Homo sapiens: one gene and its partner. The protein of the gene in region 1 interacts with the protein of each later gene in a pairwise test. Each region holds a gene or a part of one and is shown on either strand. Other genes may lie near its edges.

Evidence for each region.
Region 2: the proteins of NUAK2 (region 1) and GRIPAP1 interact in binary tests that used the Homo sapiens proteins (3 or more experiments, as listed by UniProt).

The regions. Positions count from the first base shown.
Region 1 is NC_000001.11:205,318,716-205,325,590, reverse strand, and holds the start of NUAK2 (NUAK family SNF1-like kinase 2), read left to right. Parts: upstream 1-3,845; 5' UTR 3,846-3,962; coding exon 3,963-4,193; intron 4,194-6,875. UniProt on the Homo sapiens protein: Stress-activated kinase involved in tolerance to glucose starvation. Induces cell-cell detachment by increasing F-actin conversion to G-actin. Expression is induced by CD95 or TNF-alpha, via NF-kappa-B.
Region 2 is NC_000023.11:48,973,204-48,978,279, forward strand, and holds the end of GRIPAP1 (GRIP1-associated protein 1), read right to left. Parts: intron 3,161-5,076; coding exon 3,038-3,160; intron 2,909-3,037; coding exon 2,815-2,908; intron 2,107-2,814; coding exon 1,952-2,106; intron 1,083-1,951; coding exon 990-1,082; 3' UTR 520-989; downstream 1-519. UniProt on the Homo sapiens protein: Regulates the endosomal recycling back to the neuronal plasma membrane, possibly by connecting early and late recycling endosomal domains and promoting segregation of recycling endosomes from early endosomal membranes.

The sequences.
Region 1 (6,875 bases):
CAGCGACTAACAGGATTTGCATCCCTTTCTTGGAGGGGAGGTAGGGAATACTACAGGCTGTAATTCATCCTCAGGGCTCAAGACTCATCTTAGAGGTATCTGAGATCTGCCTTACCTGCTCCCAACCCTCACGTGACCCCCATGGCATGGCCTTGGTGCCTCTCACCTCTGCTCCTACCTGCACCCTGCTCCCACCAGGACACATCACAGCAGTCCACACACTGAGCTGCTTTCAAATCCCCTTTTACCAGTCTGGACCCACCTCCACTCCCCTACAGACACACACACAAATTGTGAAGTGTGTAAGGACAAGGACAGACATTTGTTCCCACTTGTTTTCCCAGCACAGCACATAGTAGATCCAATAAACAGCTTTCCCCCATGACCCCCTCAGACATGGATCAGCCATGGGACTTGGGGCTGGGGGGTAGGCGTCTCCCTTCCAGGAGTCAATAGTGGGGCAGGCAGGATTGAGAGTAGCTTAGCTCAGCCCAGATATCTCAGCACATCCACACATCCGACCACATGACCCAGGAATTCCCCAAGACTGCTGGTGGCAGAGTCCCCGACCAACACGGATTCCCTGTCAGGCACTCTCGCTTTCCCACCAACTAGACCTCCTTTAAGGAATTTGAGATATGAGTTTCAGCAGCTTAGATCATTTCCGAGTCACATGCTGTTCTGGCTCTGTGTCTTCCTTGCCTACCTGCTGTGATCTTTGGTCACCCATGGCTCCTCACCTAGATGGGAATTCAGATTGTAGTCAAAGGAAGCTGGAGCAGGGGTGAGAAGGTCCAAGAAGTTGCAGATGATTCCCTCCCGACCATGGCCAGATAGCTGGTAATGGAGTGGGCCCAATCACATGTAGGTGCTTTTAGTTTCATCTTTGGATTCCATCGCACATCCATTCCTTCAGTTCATAAGCATCTATGGAGCGACTTTTAGGTGCCTCGCAGCACACTGGGTGTTGGGGATACCTGGAAAAAATTACAGGAGTGTAGCTAGATTAAGCCTTAAAAGAAGCGTTAAGCTCATCTGTATAATTCTTTCATCTTATGAAGAAATGTTGATTCAGCTGGCCAATTGCCACTTGTCCTTCAGGTCTCAACTTAAAAAGTCCTGGCTTTAGGAACCTGCGCCTGACCAGCCTCCTCCCACCTGGGATACATATCTTAAAGAAAATCTGAGCCGGGCGCAGTGGTTTACACCTGTAATCCCAACACTTTGAGAGGCCAAGGCGGGCAGATCACCTGAGGTCAGGAGTTCAAGACCAGCCTGACCAACATGGAGAAACTCTGTCTCTACTAAAAATACAAAATTAGCCGGGTGTGGTGGCGCATGCCTGTAATCCCAGCTACTCAGGAGGCTGAGGCAGAAGAATCGCTTGAACCCGGGAGGCGGAGGCTGTGGTGAGCCGAGATCACACCACAGCACTCCAGCCTGGGCAACGAAAGCAAAACTCCGTCTCAAAAAAAAAGAAAAGGCAATCTGTTCTTCTTCCATCATGGACCCTTCTCCCTCTGTACAGGATTTACTTGTTTATTTCTCACTAGACTGAGAACATTCCAAAGGCAGGAATCTTGTCATGATTGTGTCCCCAGGCTCAGCACCTAGTGGGCACCAGTATTTGTAGAATGAAGTAATTAGTAGAAGGCCACAGAACTGGTTAGTGTCAGAGTCAGGACTCGAACTCAGGTCCCCCAACACTCGGCCCTGTGCTTGCTCTTATGTTATCCATACTTCCTTTTGAGAATTCTAATCATCTGGATGAGCCCCCAGGAATAGAAGCAGATTTCAGAGGGGAAAGGAGATAGCAAGTCAAGGCAACTATCTCTGGGCCTCATCCTATTTGCACAGAAAACCCACAGCAAAAGGGGAGGCTGGTGGAGGGAAGAATGCCAAACCAGCTGCCACCTCCTGTGGCCCTCCAAATTTGGGAGCGATACATTGGTTTCCTGTGTAAGATGGATCCTCTCCAGTCACAAAGGAGATAAAGAGCTCCATGGAGGGATGGAGACATCTGTAACTCACACTAGAAAAATAATCAAAGGATCAGTGGAAGTAGAAAAGTGGGCAGCCACTGGGGGTGGGTCCTTCTCCATCCTCAGCATGCCCTGGATACACAGGGGAGGCACCATCCTCCTGAAGGCCTGAGGGGAAGGCTGGCTCTCCAGCATAGCTAGAATCCATCCAGGGCCCTAAACTGGCTGGCAGAAGGGGTTTCCCTCAGGGAAGAGGATCCAGGTCTATTGTCCTCTATTCTCTTCCTCAGGACCAGGGTCTAAATCCCGCCACTTTATTACCAGTTGTGTGGCCTTGGACAGAATAATACTCATTTCACAGGATTAGGTTATCAAGATGGCCAAAGGGGAAATGTTCCCTTTCTGCCATTTAAAGCAAGAAGGAAAACCTATGGCCATTCTCATTTCACTGTAAATGAGCACTCAGAGTGGAGATTCTGGACCTAGCAACTCCAGGCCTCAAAAACTAAGTCAAGCTGGGCGCAGTGGCTCACGCTTGTAATCCCAGTACTTTGGGAGGCCGAGGCGGGCGGATCACGAGGTCAGGAGATCAAGACCATGGTGAAACCCTGTCTCTACTAAAAATACAAAAAATTAGCCGGGCGTGGTGGCGGGCGCCTGTAGTCCCAGCTACTCGGAGAGGCTGAGGCAGGAGAATGGCGTGAACCCGGGAGGCGGAGCTTGCAGTGAGCAGAGATCGCACCACTGCACTCCAGCCTGGGCGACAGAGGGAGACTCCGTCTCAAGTCAAACCTCATAACCTACCACCAGTGCTCCTGGCACCAAAATCACAAGAAAACCTTGGGTGGAGCAACCATTTTCAGACTTAGGGACACAGGTTAGATAGTCGGCATGTAAAAATGTTAAATAAATATGTATCCCTTCGGGTTCTCTCCACCTCCAGCCGACACATCCTAAATAAATTCCACTAAGTGGTTGAGGGAATCTACTAAACCTTAGAAGCCCTCTTTTTTTTTGAAACGGAGCCTCACTTTGTTGCCCAGGCTGGAGTGCAGTGGCGCCATCTTGATTCACTGAAACCTCTGCCTCCTGGGTTCAAGCGATTCTTCTGCCTCAGCCTCCAGAGTAGCTGGGATTACAAGCGCGCACCACCACGCCCGGCTAATTTTGTATCTTTAGTGGAGATGGGATTTCGTCATGTTGGCTAGGTTGGTCTTGAACTCCTGGACCTCAAGCGATTCGCCTAAGAAGCCCTCTTTGAGGAAGAAGGAAGAAGTTTCCAGGGCCATTGGATTCCAATATCCAAGTAAGGTTGATCTAACTGAAGACAAGTGAACTCGAACCATAGGACAGCTCTGCACTAACCCTCCCACTAGGCTGGATTCTGCCTCTGTTCCATCCCAGCTCCCTTTCTCCTTTATGGACTCAATGAAGTGGTCAAGCAATTATAGATTTTGGCTTGGGACAAGCAAATTACTCAGGATGAAGAAATACTTTGGTGACCTTTAGTGCCCTCAGATCGCCCCTTGCCAACTGAGAACAGAGTACAATAAAACAACAGGGCATTAAGCAGGACCAAGCGCCACTCAGAGGCAAGTGCAGCTCCAAGGGCCCTCAGAGTAAGCTTCTGGGCCTCAGGCGGCCTTCGCTGGAATCCCCTAGTCCCCATTCCTGGTGGGCGGGTTCCATTGACACCTTTCCCGGCCACGCCGAGGGGGAGGAGGCGGGGCCTGGAGCCCCGGAGAGCCAATGTGGACGGCCGTGGTCACGCGCCGCCGTCGAGCAGGCCAATGGGCGCCGGGGGGCGTGTCCAGGGCCTCGGGCTCAGGGCGTTTATAACAACTTGGAATGCTGTGCTTTACTGCGCGCTCTGGTACTGCTGTGGCTCCCCGTCCTGGTGCGGGACCTGTGCCCCGCGCTTCAGCCCTCCCCGCACAGCCTACTGATTCCCCTGCCGCCCTTGCTCACCTCCTGCTCGCCATGGAGTCGCTGGTTTTCGCGCGGCGCTCCGGCCCCACTCCCTCGGCCGCAGAGCTAGCCCGGCCGCTGGCGGAAGGGCTGATCAAGTCGCCCAAGCCCCTAATGAAGAAGCAGGCGGTGAAGCGGCACCACCACAAGCACAACCTGCGGCACCGCTACGAGTTCCTGGAGACCCTGGGCAAAGGCACCTACGGGAAGGTGAAGAAGGCGCGGGAGAGCTCGGGGCGCCTGGTGAGTGCGGCTCCCTCTCGCGGCGCGGGGCGGGCTCCGGCTTGGCCGCCGGCAGGGAGCGGAGGAGGGCGGGCGGCGGCTCGCTCGTTGCTCGGCGGAGAGGCCAGCGTGGTCTTTACCGCGCTGAGCTTGCGGGGCTACTGCGGGGTGTCCCTGGCAGATGTGTCAGTCCGTGATTGCAGGGACAGTGGTCGCAAACTTGCGAACCCCAGCCAGCAACACCGTACTGCTGTGATGATTGCCAAATAAAAGGGAGGCTATGGATAGTTGGCGCGGAAAAACGAATCGTGTCGTGTCCTGGGATAAGATGGATGGGACTTAAGTTGAGTTTTGCTGGGAAAAGACTGTTCAATAGAGTGCAATGGAAAGAGGAAGTAGAAGGCACCCCATCTTAATAGGTATTTGGTAAATATGTGTGTGGTTGAATGAATGGATGAGGTGTGGATTTCCCCAACTCCAAGAATCTGGCAACCCAGCACACTGGAGCTCTGGCACGGGGTGGGTTTTGACATTTAGGTCCTTTCCAGCTCTAAAATTTAGTTGAAATTTCATTATGATGAGTTTTTGATTCTGGAAAATGTGAAACCAGGTCCACTGTACCAGAGACACCTTTCGGTTTGGGGGCCTTTTCAAGAACATGCCCTGTTACTTTGGTGCGAGCGTAGGAGTCTAGCAGTCTGTGTGACCTTGGGCAATTTCCTTCATCTCTGTACTTTGTTTCCCCTTTTGCAGAACTGTAGAAAACACAGCCTGCCTCACAAGCTGCTGTGAGGATTGAATAAGATCGAAATATGAACTTATATTGCTCCTAACACATAGAACTTGCGGTGAGATAGCCGGGCGCGGTGGCTCACGCCTGTAATCCCAGCACTGTGGGAGGCCGAGGCGGGCGGATCGTGAGGTCAGGAGATCGAGACCATCCTGGCTAACACAGTGAAACCCCGTCTCTACTAAAAATACAAAAAATTAGCCGGGCGTGGTGGCGGACGCCTGTAGTCCCAGCTACTCGGGAGGCTGAGGCAGGAGAATGGCCTGAACCCAGGAGGCGGAGCTTGCAGTGAGCCGAGATCGTGCCACTGCACTCCAGCCTGGGCAACAGAGCGAGACTCCGTCTCAAAAACAAAACAAAACAAAACAAAACGAAACAAACAAAAAAAGAACTTGCAGTGAGAATTTCTGGAAAGGGCAGCCCAGAAAGGATGGCAAATTTGTCAAAAGTTAGTTAGCAGTGGTTAACTGGTTCTCAAACTTGAGTTTAAAGTACGTAAGGATCACCTGGGATGTTTGTTTAAAATACTTACATTCTCTGGTTCCACACCCAGAGTAATTTATTCTGAAGGTCTAGGATAGGGCCATATAATGTATATTTTAACAAGCCTTTTAGAGCAGGTGGTTTAGGCATTATTATGTTTTGCCAAATCCAGTTGGGTGCTGGTTGTGAGGGGGTGTGTGTGTGTGTGTGTGTGTGTGTGTATGGTTTGCCCTATTGGCTACATCAGCAGTTACTTCCCCAGATTGTGTTTGCTTTTGCAGCCAGTAGCTGGTTTGAAATTCAAGAAGTCATTTCATTGGTGAAGGAGAGTGGATGTTGGAGAAAGGGGTAGATTATGGCCCCATCAATAGGACCGAGTATGTTTTTCCTGCTATCGCCTGGCACAGTCCCCAGTTGCCTGCTGCCAGGTTACAGCTATTGGGCAATCATGTACTTCCTGGCTTGCCTTTTCTTTCTCTTTCTGCAAAGTGTGAGGGCCCGGTGAGGCTCCAGGCTTGAGGCTGTTGGACCCAGGCTTTGTCAGGGGCTTAGCTGGAAAATAGCTGCTGGTGGCTTGTGCTTCGTGCCTCTTGGGGGTGGAGACACTGGGTCGTGGGGACTGGGGTGGCCCAGAGACTGAGAAACTGAGATTGAAGTTCAGAGTTCCCATCAGGCTCTTGACCCAGGTCACTGTGGGGTGTGTGTGTGGATGTGCATGAGAGAGAGAGAGTAAGAGAGAGATCTCATTTGATTCCAGAATGAGATAAACTAGCTTTCAGTTTTCAAACTTAAGTGGATTTAGGCAGGGATTCCAGCTCTTATTACATCAGAAGATACTCCCTGGCCTCATGCCTCTTGCTCTATGTAGGAAGCCAAGATCAGTAGGCATGGGACCTGCTGTGAACCTCCCTGATCCATAGACCACCCAGTTCTGCAGCTGGGAACTTGCTCAGGGTCTCCTTCCTTCTTGGAGAGCAGCTGCCTGCTGTGCTAATGGTTTCTCAATTCTGGAGCATTGCCTCTTCCCCACCCCACCCCACCCCTGCCTCTTGACTGTCCTTCGTGAATCGAGAGAGACCTAGTGCCTCAGGATACTTCAGTGCGGGAGAGGGGTGTGGGAGCTTGCCCAAGACCTCCCCTAGAATGAATTGAGATTGTTGGTGGGAGCTAGATTCAGAGGAAAGCCAGCTGGGTGACTTCCATCCCAATTTTCTCTCCACCTTTCTAGCACACTTCCCGCTCCCAACCTGCCTAGATGGGATTATCAGGGCCAGATGGGATTGGCTGAGGGAAGGGCAGGTGGGCGGAACTAATGGCTGCTCTAGGAGGACATCAAAGGAAAAACAAATATTTGCTCTGGCTCTTCAATACATTCCTGGTATCCAAATGACATTTCCTCCTGGGACTCACCCAGCTCCCCTGGCCACCCC
Region 2 (5,076 bases), on another chromosome or scaffold:
CATTCCCCCAACCATTGGTCCATTTACTCCTAACCTGTCCATAAACCCATCCATCCACCTGTCTACCTAAATCATCCACCCATTTGTCCATAGACCTATTATCCATCTGTCCATTTACATCTCTACTATCCATCCTCTATCCACCTACCAATCTATCTACCCATTTATTCATCTAACCACCTATCCATCCATCCATTTATTTCCCAATCTATCCATCATCAGTCCATGCAACCGTTCACTTATACATCCATCGGTCCATCCAACCACTTATCCATCCTCCCATCTGTCTACTCATCTATACCCACAATCCCATACATGTCTACCCATGTACATATCTGCAGGTATTTCAGCTCCACTCAGTTTGAGGGGCTGGTCAGCAGTAAATGGAGACAGGCTGGATGAGGGTGGGGAAAAGAGAGTAACGTTGCAGCCAGAGACCTCTCTCCCTATTCCAATGGTGTAAACCTCCCCGCCCCCAGCATATTCCTCCTGGTTGAAAAGAACGAGACGAGACAGTCAGTGGGTGGGCCCGTCTGGCCAGATGGTATTTTGGCTGCATAGCCTTTACACACACACACACACACGTGTTGCTAGAACGCTGAACATGGACCACACACCCACCCAGCATCCCCAATCCCAAATGCAGAGTAGCCAGGCTCCAGACATAAATTAAAAAATAAAATAAAATAAAATAAAAAGAGTTGGTCTCTGGGAAGGAGAGCTCATGCAGAGATGAAGACAGAAGCCCTTGGGAGCCAGGACCAAGAAGAAGGAGAAATCCCTGCCCCTTCCCTCAGGATCCCCACTCCCTGGTGGCCTCTGCCCTAAGACAGGATCATTAACACTAACCATCAGGCCTCTAGCCCCTTTAATGTCCAGTCTCCCAAGCTATTTGATTTTGGCTCCAGCCCTCATTTTTCCACCACAGCCCAAGGGAATAGCATCCTAGGGGGTAGGAAGGGGAGGAGGTGGGTGCAGCCTGCAGGTCTTTAGCTGGTTTCTCCTGGCTCTAGGTCTGGGTCAGGAGGCCCCACGCACTCCTTGCTGAGCCGCACAATTTCCTGGGACAGAACTTCCATATCCTAAGAAACAAATGAACCATCAGGGGCCAGAGAAGGGGACAGGCTGCTCCCTTGCCAAACGTAGGGTATCATCTGTGATTTCCCTCACACCCTTTCATTAATCAATGCTCAGCTGTGTCTGGCCTGGGATGAGAAGGTACTTGGAGAAGCTCACAGCACCCCCAACAGTGGGCAGGGCTCAGAAAAGTCATGAGGATGGGTGGGGAGCTACAGATAATGGGAGTGGGATGCCTCCTGTGGCATGGTGCTGCTGCAGGATACACCACCACTCTGGCCACCTGCTCTTCTAAGTGTGAGCTTGCTTCTCAAAGGCAGGAGCTGGGTCTGACCCCTTTCTAACTCTCAGAGATGGGGAAAGTCCTTGGGTGGCAGTTTGGGCAGAAAGATGTGTGTGTGGACCCATGGGCATGGGGGATCTATGGTAGACAAATTGGTGGACGAATGAATTGTCCAGAGGACAGATGGAGATCAACAGGTGGGCAGGCAGGTAACTGGGTGGGTGAAAGGTAACACAAGGGGCAATTGATGAGTAGATAAGAGAATGATATGTCAAGAAATGGGTGGCAGGACATGGGGTAGACAATGAGATAAGTAAGTAGTAGATTGGGTAGATGGACAGATGGGCAAATGGTTGGGTGAATGTGTAGATAAATGGATGAGCGGGTACATGGAAGGAATGAATGGATAATAAGTTGATGAGAGGGTGGAAGATGAGAGCATGATGGAGTAGTTGATGAGTGGGTAGGAGGATAGCTGGGAGGACAGGCTGGGTGGGTGGGCAAGGGGACTGGCAGATGACCCAGGGGCTATGTGGCTGGGTAGGCAGGTGGCTGGGTGAACAGATGGGTAGGCTGGCAGGCCACACTTGCCTTGTGCAAGTGCATATTCTTGGTGAGCTGCTCCTCCAGCATGTTCTGCAGCTTCTTGTTCATCTCCCGAAGGTTCTCGTCACCTGGCTTCACTAGGTCTCTCAGGACGCTGCCCAGCCCGCTGCGGTCTGTGTGGCCTGCTGCCACAGACACATCTGCAAGGGCCCAGGCTGAAAACCACCCCCTCGGCAGAGCCAGAGGAGAGCCAGGCAGAGCCAGAGGAGAAAAGAGGGAGACGAATACCAGGGGAGAAGGCAGCAGGAAAAGCCATGTCATGTAGGACAGAGGCTTTGACATACAAAACCTAGCTCTGTCACTCACTAGCTCTATGGCCCCGAGAAATGAGGATAACTAACTTGTGGAACTGGAAAGATGCACATGACTGTATGTGAAGCACAGAGCACACAGAAAGTCCTCAGCACATGTTGGTCAGTATGATTCTGATTAATAAAGAAAAATCTGTGAAGGAGAAAGTTTGAAAGAAAGCAAAAGCAATGAAGATACAGAGAAGGAAAACAATATAGACAGCGAGACAAGATGAAGGAGTGGGGTGAAAAAGAGAAACGGAGAAGAGAGAAGGGAGAGAGAGAGGAGAGGAAGATGAGGCACAGGGAGAGGAAAGGAGAAAGTGGACAGAGAGACACAATGGAGAATGGAGAGTGGAGAGATGACAGAGAAAGAGAGAAGAGGGAGGAGGCGAGATCAAGAGACAGTGCTTTCCTGTTCTCCCCTCCACAGGCCATGGTCTTGTCAGTAGCTTCGCTGAGTTCCGAGAGGAGAGGAGAGAAGCCGCAGCACAGAATGGAGAGGGAGGGCCAGGTGAAGGCTGGACCAGGGCTGAGGGCCGGGGAGGGGACACTGACCGATCCGGCTGTCCATGACGTAGGTCTCAATGATGGCGCTCTTCCGGCAGAGGTCCTCTGCCATGGAAGCACTGCTCACTTCCAGGTGCTTCACCTGCAAGATGGCCCAGCCCACCTGAGACCCCTCTACTGTACATGTTCACACATGAGGCGGGCCCGGGCAGACCCCACACCCACAAGGGCACTTCAAGTGGGGATGGGCAGGCAGGCAGGCAGGCAGCACCTTCTCCTCCAGCATCCATTTCTCCTGCTGTGTCTCTGCCAGCCGCTGAAAGAGCTCAGCCACTTCCTCATCTGACAGCTCTGCTGGCCGAGGGGGCTGGGCTTGAGGGCTGCTGGATAAGGACTGCAGGAAAGAGAAGGGGAGAGGCCAGCCCCGGGCTCAGCACCACCGACCCCAGACAGGTGTCAGGGACTGGGGAGGAGAACCAGGCCAGAGGTGGGTGAGAGAACATGGGCCCTGAAGCTGGGACTGTTGGCCCATCTTGGTACCCTCAGACTCTGTTTTCTCCTCTGCCTAAATGGGGGTAGAGAGTAACCACATCAGAGCCTTGTGGAGAGGATTGAAGGAAGATCCCAAAGCAAATGAGATCTAACTTTCAGCTGACAGGAAAACTGGAAGAGAGGGACATGTTAAATCATACCACCAGGAAGCCAGCAGAAAAACCCAAAAGGTAGCATACTTCCTGTGGGGTGACTGGGCTGGCCTCTTCAACAAATTGGTCTCAGGAAAAAAGGGACCGCACTAAAGAGATTTAAGGGCCATAAAACAACCAGATGTAACATGTGCTCTGAATCTGAATGCTAGTTTTCATAAAACCAGCAAGAAAGGACATTCTGGGGCCAACTAGAGAAATCTGGTTAAGGTCAAAGTATCAGACGACATGAATTTTTTTTTTTTTTTTGAGACAGAATTTCACTCTTGTTGCCCAGGCTGGAGTGCAATGGCAAGATCTTGGCTCACTGCAACCTCCAACTCCCAGGATCAAGCGATTCTCCTGCCTCAGCCTCCCGAGTAGATGGAATTACAGGCACGCGCCACTACGCCCAGCTAATTTTTGTATTTTTAGTAGAGATGGGGTTTCACCATGTTGGCCAGGCTGGTCTTGAACTCCTGACCTCAAGTGATCTGCCCGCCTCGGCCTCCCAAAGTACTGGGATTATAGGCAGGAGCCACCGCACCCAGCCAATGACATGAAAATTGATCAAATTGGGAAGGTAGAGACAACAGTTGAATAAAAAACAGGTTAATCTCATCTAGGTTTTAAAAAGAGAGAGAATTCTGGAAGGGTATGAACTAAGAATTTATTTTATTTATTTATTTTTTGAGATGGAGTTTCACTGTTGCCCAGGCTGGAGTGCAGTGGTGTGATCTCGGCTCATTGCAACCTCCACCTCCCAGGTTCAAGCGATTCTCTTGCCTCAACCTTTCGAGTAGCTGGGACTACAGGCACGCACCACCACGCCCGGCTAATTTTTGTATTTTAGTAGAGATGAGGTTTTGCTATGTTGGCCAGGCCAGTTCTCAAACTCCTAACCTCAAGTGATCTGCCCGCCTCAGCCTCCCAAAGTGCTAGGGTTACAGGCATGAGCCACCGCGCCCAGCCCTGAACTAAGAATTTATAATGGTGACGTCTGGATGGTGAAAATATTATTTTTTTTTGACATTTAAGGTTTTTTTGTTTTTGTTTTTTTTTTAAATAGAGTCGGAGTTTTACCACGTTTCCCAGGCTGGTCTTAAACTCCTGAGCTCAAGTGATCCGCCCACCTTGGCCTCCCAAAGTGTAGGATTATAGGGATGAGCCACCACACCCGGCCAGACATTTAAGGTTTTAAAAAAATCTTTGCTCATTTGTGGTTTTTAAAAAATGTACTACAATGAGCACATACTATTTGTGGAACAATAAAAAAGTTATTTCCAAAGGAAAGTGGCTGGTAAGGAGGCTGACATGACAGCCGGCAATAATAATTAGTGATCATTACAAGTTGGAAAAAGGGACCTTCTCCTTGGATGGTGCACCTACTATGAGCCACATAATTTATGGCACCAGAGAAGGGGGAATTAGCCCACAGATGATTAAACAGAAAGTCAGAGAGAGAGAATGACTGGCCTGTCCTGCATGTCGCAATCTGAATCCAAGTTGGTGGGCTTGGGGAAAAGTTGACAAGAAAATATGTGTGCTGCGCCCAAAGTAGGAGATGGGTTTAGGTGAGGAGAAAAGGGGAGGGGTTCTCAGATTTTTGGGTTGAGAGAAGCTGGAG